Linked DNA regions of Homo sapiens. The protein of the gene in region 1 binds, or shares a complex with, the protein of each later gene. Each region holds a gene or a part of one and is shown on either strand. Other genes may lie near its edges.

The links.
Region 2: the proteins of COL1A1 (region 1) and FN1 are in contact, whole or in part, in a crystal structure (PDB 3GXE), measured with the Homo sapiens proteins. Residues at the interface, in NP_000079.2 of Homo sapiens: Leu261, Pro262, Gly263, Met264, Lys265, Gly266, His267, Arg268; in NP_997647.2 of Homo sapiens: Asp516, Gln517, Lys533, His535, Glu537, His539, Leu541, Gly549, Arg550, Gly551, Arg552, Trp553, Lys554, Cys555, Pro557, Gln560, Phe569.

Annotation. Positions count from the first base shown.
Region 1 is NC_000017.11:50,200,263-50,204,178, reverse strand, and holds the start of COL1A1 (collagen alpha-1(I) chain preproprotein), read left to right. Parts: upstream 1-2,547; 5' UTR 2,548-2,665; coding exon 2,666-2,768; intron 2,769-3,916. UniProt on the Homo sapiens protein: Type I collagen is a member of group I collagen (fibrillar forming collagen).
Region 2 is NC_000002.12:215,360,090-215,363,109, forward strand, and holds the end of FN1 (fibronectin isoform 1 precursor), read right to left. Parts: exon of another isoform or gene 2,564-3,020; coding exon of another isoform or gene 2,557-2,563; intron 1,991-2,556; coding exon 1,880-1,990; intron 1,538-1,879; coding exon 1,466-1,537; 3' UTR 776-1,465; downstream 1-775. Other genes in the region: bifunctional purine biosynthesis protein ATIC, read left to right, coding at 2,557-2,563. UniProt on the Homo sapiens protein: Fibronectins bind cell surfaces and various compounds including collagen, fibrin, heparin, DNA, and actin. Fibronectins are involved in cell adhesion, cell motility, opsonization, wound healing, and maintenance of cell shape.

The DNA.
Region 1 (3,916 bases):
CAGGCTGGGAGGAGACCCCAAGCACATTCTTCCTCTCACTGTCATACTGCAGAAATTAAAGACACATCTTCAGCCTGGGCACCCGCCAAGCGTTTTAAGTCGAAGAGTGGCAGGGGAGGCCTTGAGCCTCAGCTCCATGCCACGTGTAAAGGATGCTTGGAAACTGTCTGCCTCGGCCCCTGGGAGGAAGGCCTGGAACTGGACATTGGGGTGGTGGCTGTCACACGCCAGGCACACAAAACTCCAAAGCCAGGGATCCCCAAATATCCTTCAGAACCCCAGGCCCATGATGTAGCAACCCCCAATTCACACCTTGGAGGTTTCAACTCTTCTTTAAGATGGGCGTGGGAAAGCCTGGATGGGAAACATATGGGGAGGGGCGGGGAGCTGCAGGCAGGAGCCCTTCTTACTACGAAAACCCAAGAAGCAAGGAAGTGGACAGGTCACTAACCCTCATACTACCAAGCCCTGCGGCACCCTGCCCTAGACCACCACTCTAAATGTCTGTTCCCTCCAAAAACAGGACCCCTGTCGCCTATTAGGGAGGGGTTCTCTTGGAACTGACCCACAGTAGGGGGCAGGACTTTGGTGGGTTCAAGAACTGCCATCTCAGCACCTCAGCCCCCTAGTCCTGCCCTGCAGTCGCTGGCACTAGGCGGGGGCAGACCCTGGGCCACAAGTTGCTGCCACATGGTCGGGATAATTGATGAAGGTCCATCCCTCCATTGCTGTCTCCAGCCCTGCCTCTCTGGAAACTCTATATTTTCCCTTTAATTATAGCCCCTGCAGTCTCCCTCTGCTGCCCCACCCGCACCGCTCATCCTGGCTGCCCACGGCCAGCCGGCCAGCCGACGTGGCTCCCTCCCCTTCTGTTCCTTTTTTTTCCCCTTTGCCTTCGTTGCACAAAACCAGCTGGGGGAGGGCGTGGAGAGGGGCGGGGGGAGGCAATGGAATCTTGGATGGTTTGGGGGAGGCGGGACTCCCCGCTTCCACGTTTGCAGCTCTGGAGCACCCGGGGTGGGGAGCTGCACAGGAGGGAGAGAAATGAACAGGGCACTGCAAGGAGACCCCCAGGCCTTCTCTCAGCCCTACAGAGTTTCTCAGGACGAGGTAGATTGGGGTTGAGGCAGAGCCTTGTTGGGGGAATGGGACATGGAGGAAGAAAGGACGTGGAGTTCTAGAGCCATCTTCCTTAGATATAGCCTGCTGTCCTTCGGGTCCCCAGACCCTTTCAGAGTGTACAGATGATTCTCTCTGGTTCCTAAGGCATAGAGCAATGACCGGGATTTTCAAGAAAGAGATGAGGCAGTGGGAAGTAGCCCCTAAAACAAAGTCAATCATCCTCTGCAGCCCATCCCACACCCCCAAAGGAAAGTTTCACCCAGACACCCAAAATATCCCATACATCCCCAACACTGAGTCCAGGTACAACTGGAGAAGGGGCTTTATGCAGCTCCCAGAAAGACACCCCTTTAGCTAAGTGCCCTCCCTCCACCCAGGTTCTCTCTGGTTTGACTGTGCTGGGAAGGAGGGTCTCTAAGCAGCCCCTGGCCACAGCCATGGCAAACAAAACTCTTCTCTAAGTCACCAATGATCACAGGCCTCCCACTAAAAATACTTCCCAACTCTGGGGTGGAAGAGTTTGGGGGATGAATTTTTAGGGGATTGCAAGCCCCAATCCCCACCTCTGTGTCCCTAGAATCCCCCACCCCTACCTTGGCTGCTCCATCACCCAACCACCAAAGCTTTCTTCTGCAGAGGCCACCTAGTCATGTTTCTCACCCTGCACCTCAGCCTCCCCACTCCATCTCTCAATCATGCCTAGGGTTTGGAGGAAGGCATTTGATTCTGTTCTGGAGCACAGCAGAAGAATTGACATCCTCAAAATTAAAACTCCCTTGCCTGCACCCCTCCCTCAGATATCTGATTCTTAATGTCTAGAAAGGAATCTGTAAATTGTTCCCCAAATATTCCTAAGCTCCATCCCCTAGCCACACCAGAAGACACCCCCAAACAGGCACATCTTTTTAATTCCCAGCTTCCTCTGTTTTGGAGAGGTCCTCAGCATGCCTCTTTATGCCCCTCCCTTAGCTCTTGCCAGGATATCAGAGGGTGACTGGGGCACAGCCAGGAGGACCCCCTCCCCAACACCCCCAACCCTTCCACCTTTGGAAGTCTCCCCACCCAGCTCCCCAGTTCCCCAGTTCCACTTCTTCTAGATTGGAGGTCCCAGGAAGAGAGCAGAGGGGCACCCCTACCCACTGGTTAGCCCACGCCATTCTGAGGACCCAGCTGCACCCCTACCACAGCACCTCTGGCCCAGGCTGGGCTGGGGGGCTGGGGAGGCAGAGCTGCGAAGAGGGGAGATGTGGGGTGGACTCCCTTCCCTCCTCCTCCCCCTCTCCATTCCAACTCCCAAATTGGGGGCCGGGCCAGGCAGCTCTGATTGGCTGGGGCACGGGCGGCCGGCTCCCCCTCTCCGAGGGGCAGGGTTCCTCCCTGCTCTCCATCAGGACAGTATAAAAGGGGCCCGGGCCAGTCGTCGGAGCAGACGGGAGTTTCTCCTCGGGGTCGGAGCAGGAGGCACGCGGAGTGTGAGGCCACGCATGAGCGGACGCTAACCCCCTCCCCAGCCACAAAGAGTCTACATGTCTAGGGTCTAGACATGTTCAGCTTTGTGGACCTCCGGCTCCTGCTCCTCTTAGCGGCCACCGCCCTCCTGACGCACGGCCAAGAGGAAGGCCAAGTCGAGGGCCAAGACGAAGACAGTAAGTCCCAAACTTTTGGGAGTGCAAGGATACTCTATATCGCGCCTTGCGCTTGGTCCCGGGGGCCGCGGCTTAAAACGAGACGTGGATGATCCGGAGACTCGGGAATGGAAGGGAGATGATGAGGGCTCTTCCTCGGCGCCCTGAGACAGGAGGGAGCTCACCCTGGGGCGAGGTTGGGGTTGAACGCGCCCCGGGAGCGGGAGGTGAGGGTGGAGCGCGGCGTGAGTTGGTGCAAGAGAGAATCCCGAGCGCGCAACCGGGGAAGTGGGGATCTGGGTGCAGAGTGAGGAAAGCACGTCGAAGATGGGATGGGGGCGCCGAGCGGGGCATTTGAAGCCCAAGATGTAGAAGCAATCAGGAAGGCCGTGGGATGATTCATAAGGAAAGATTGCCCTCTCTGCGGGCTAGAGTGTTGCTGGGGCCGTGGGGGTGCTGGGCAGCCGCGGAGGGGGTGCGGAGCGTGGGCGGGTGGAGGATGAGAAACTTTGGCGCGGACTCGGCGGGGCGGGGTCCTTGCGCCCCCTGCTGACCGATGCTGAGCACTGCGTCTCCCGGTCCAACGCTTACTGGGGCAGGAGCCGGAGCGGGAAGACCCGGGTTATTGCTGGGTGCGGACCCCCACCTCTAGATCTGGAAAGTAAAGCCAGGGATGGGGCAGCCCAAGCCTCTTAAAGAGGTAGTCGGGCCGGTGAGGTCGGCCCCGCCCCGGCCCCATTGCTTAGCGTTGCCCGACACCTAGTGGCCGTCTGGGGAGCCGCTAGCGCGGTGGGAGTGGTTAGCTAACTTCTGGACTATTTGCGGACTTTTTGGTTCTTTGGCTAAAAGTGACCTGGAGGCATTGGCTGGCTTTGGGGGACTGGGGATGGCCCCGAGAGCGGGCTTTTAAGATGTCTAGGTGCTGGAGGTTAGGGTGTCTCCTAATTTTGAGGTACATTTCAAGTCTTGGGGGGGCCTCCCTTCCAATCAGCCGCTCCCATTCTCCTAGCCCCGCCCCCGCCACCCCACCTGCCCAGGGAATGGGGGCGGGATGAGGGCTGGACCTCCCTTCTCTCCTCCCTCGCCCTCCTCCTGTCTCTACCACGCAAGCCACTCCCCACGAGCCTGCCCTCCCGATGGGGCCCCTCCTATTCTCCCCCCGCCCTCCC
Region 2 (3,020 bases), on another chromosome or scaffold:
TGCCATGCCTGGTAACATTTGTATTTTTAATAGAGACAAGGTTTCACCATGTTGGCCAGGCTGGTCTCAAACTCCTGACCTCAGGTGATCCACCTGCCTCAGCCTCCCAAAGTGCTGGGATTAGAGGTGTGAGCCACTGCGCCTGGCCTGAATGTCAAATTTAATCCCAAAGTTTGTTTCCTCAATGTTAAATTGAAAAAGAAATGACCTTTACAGATCAGGAGTAAACAAACTGTTTAGCTGGGAGTTTATCAAGCCATGCCAAAAGTGTCAGCTGACCCAAAGTAAGACATGTTAGATGGGGGTTATCATACCATGGGGTTTCCCTAAGATAAAACTCCTCCATATTATACTATTCAAATACTTTTAATATCTTAGTCATTTTTATTTCCCTTGCAGGCAATCTCTTTGAACAGAGGTTTATTCAATGAAGGAAAGGTGGAGGGAAGAAGGGAAGAATTACAATGGTTAGAAAAGAGCAACTAAAGATTATTTCTATTATACTTCTGAACGGTAAACTAGCAATTTTAATAAATATTGGGGTCCACTTAAATCTATTAAAGCAGAAAGTGTAAAGCTATCTCCATTAGTGAAGAGATGAAGTGACAAAAACCAATCAGTTTTTGTAGCAACTGATTTAGAAAATCTTGTACTGAAATCAACAATTAGACTTGCACATCATAGATTTTCAAATGTTTGCTGAATTGAAAAAGAATATTCACAGGAATTATTTCCCCCGAAGGTGTCTTATATCAAATAGATGAACTTCAAGTTGTGGAATGTAAATCTTTTATTAAAACAGTTGTCTTTCCACAGTAGTAAAGCTTTGGCACATACAGTATAAAAAATAATCACCCACCATAATTATACCAAATTCCTCTTATCAACTGCATACTAAGTGTTTTCAATACAATTTTTTCCGTATAAAAATACTGGGAAAAATTGATAAATAACAGGTAAGAGAAAGATATTTCTAGGCAATTACTAGGATCATTTGGAAAAAGTGAGTACTGTGGATATTTAAAATATCACAGTAACAAGATCATGCTTGTTCCTACAGTATTGCGGGCCAGACACTTAAGTGAAAGCAGAAGTGTTTGGGTGACTTTCCTACTTAAAATTTTGGTCATATCATTTCAAAACATTTGCATCTTGGTTGGCTGCATATGCTTTCCTATTGATCCCAAACCAAATCTTAGAATCACTTCATTTAAAATACTGAGCGGTATTGAATACTTCGAAGCAGAACAGGCAATGTGCAGCCCTCATTTATGAGAAAACCCTCAGGAAACTCCCAGGGTGATGCTTGGAGAAGCTGTGAGTTGAGCTGAAGCTGGAGAACTTCCTCCAGAGCAAAGGGCTTAAGAAAGAAAGAAGAACTCTAAGCTGGGTCTGCTAACATCACTCCAGTTTAGATGGATCTTGGCAGAGAGACATGCTTGTTCCTCTGGATTGGAAAGATGATTTACTCTCGGGAATCTTCTCTGTCAGCCTGTACATCTAAAGGCATGAAGCACTCAATTGGGCAATTAACATTCTGTTAAAAAGGAAGAAGGAAAAAAAAATTAGTGGCAAATACTGTAAAGTGTACAGAAAAAAAAATGCGGGGAGGTGGGGACTCATGACAGCTGCTTATAGATAGGATAATATTTCTTCCTAGTTTCAAGAACCTAGCAGCATACTGGGCAATAGGAGATGTTCAAGAGTTACATAAATTATAACTTAAACTATATTATGGAATACAGTGTTTCACTTAAGTCATTTATGAGTTGTTTTTTTTTTTAATTAATTAAAACACTTGGTTCATTCTGAAGAAAGATACCTGTAGAAAGAGACTGTCTAGTATGAGGGAACACACTTGTGCTGCTAATGCACTTACAGTGTTTGTTCTCTGATGGTATCTCTGAGAATACTGGTTGTAGGACTGGCCAGTAGTGCCTTCGGGACTGGGTTCACCCCCAGGTCTGCGGCAGTTGTCACAGCGCCAGCCCTGAGAGAGTAGAGGCATGAAGTCAAATGGGGTTTATGATAACCTGAGGACATCGTAATTTAGTGTTTGAGTTAAAGAAAAATGTCACATCATATGCACTGGCAAAATATAAGCAGTTAATCACTAAGCAAGCTTTGATGATGATTTCATGCATTTATAACTCTTAATACATTTTGGCTTATTACCATATCTTATACCTACATCTGTCTCTCTATGTTGTTTCTTTCTCCTGAAATGTCTCTTCTCTTCCTATTCAAACCTTGCCCATCTGCTGAGGCTCATTCCAATCCCAACTTCCTCAACAAGTTCTCTGCACTAGATGATAGAAAAGGTTTTCAAAGAATCCTAGCGATTTTAAAAGGGACTTGAGATCACATGAAGAAACGTTCTCATTTTATAGGTAAGGAAACAGAGACCCAGAGGAGAGGAGTGACTTGCTTAGAGGGAGCAGGGAAGTCACACAGTGGACCACTGGTGGAGTTGGGCCTGCCGCCCAGGAGGTGGGGTGACCTGGCCATGTTCTTTCTAATGCACCACTTTGCCACTCTCTTCCTAAACTTCCCTAGGCAGTGACATGGTAGCCTGTCACCTGGCCGGAGATGGCATGGGAGATGGAAACGGGACCAAGCTGAGCCAGTGAGGCTCCTGCCTGAAGTTTTTACTGGAAATGGGAGGACACACATGTTCTCTTTCACTACTGTTCTTAAGCTGGCAGGGGGTAAAGCAAGCTCATGGAGGTCAGTCATCAATGGCACCATCAGCAGAGACCCCGCTGAAGCACGAAGCCAGTGCATGGGAAGGCACGCGGAGCAAGAGGGAGTCCGGGCGCCATTGCTGGAGCAGCCCCTGAAGCCGGTGGGTCCTGGGACTGTTCCATTGTGTGGGCCATTTTTGCTTGAGTTGGACTTTTTTCTTACAACTAAAATGCAGCCCTAAATAATACAGTCACTTTCTTTTTTATATTAGAATTTAAATATTTTAGACATATTTCTCTGTTTAAGCACATATGCCCCTTAATACCTAACACAAT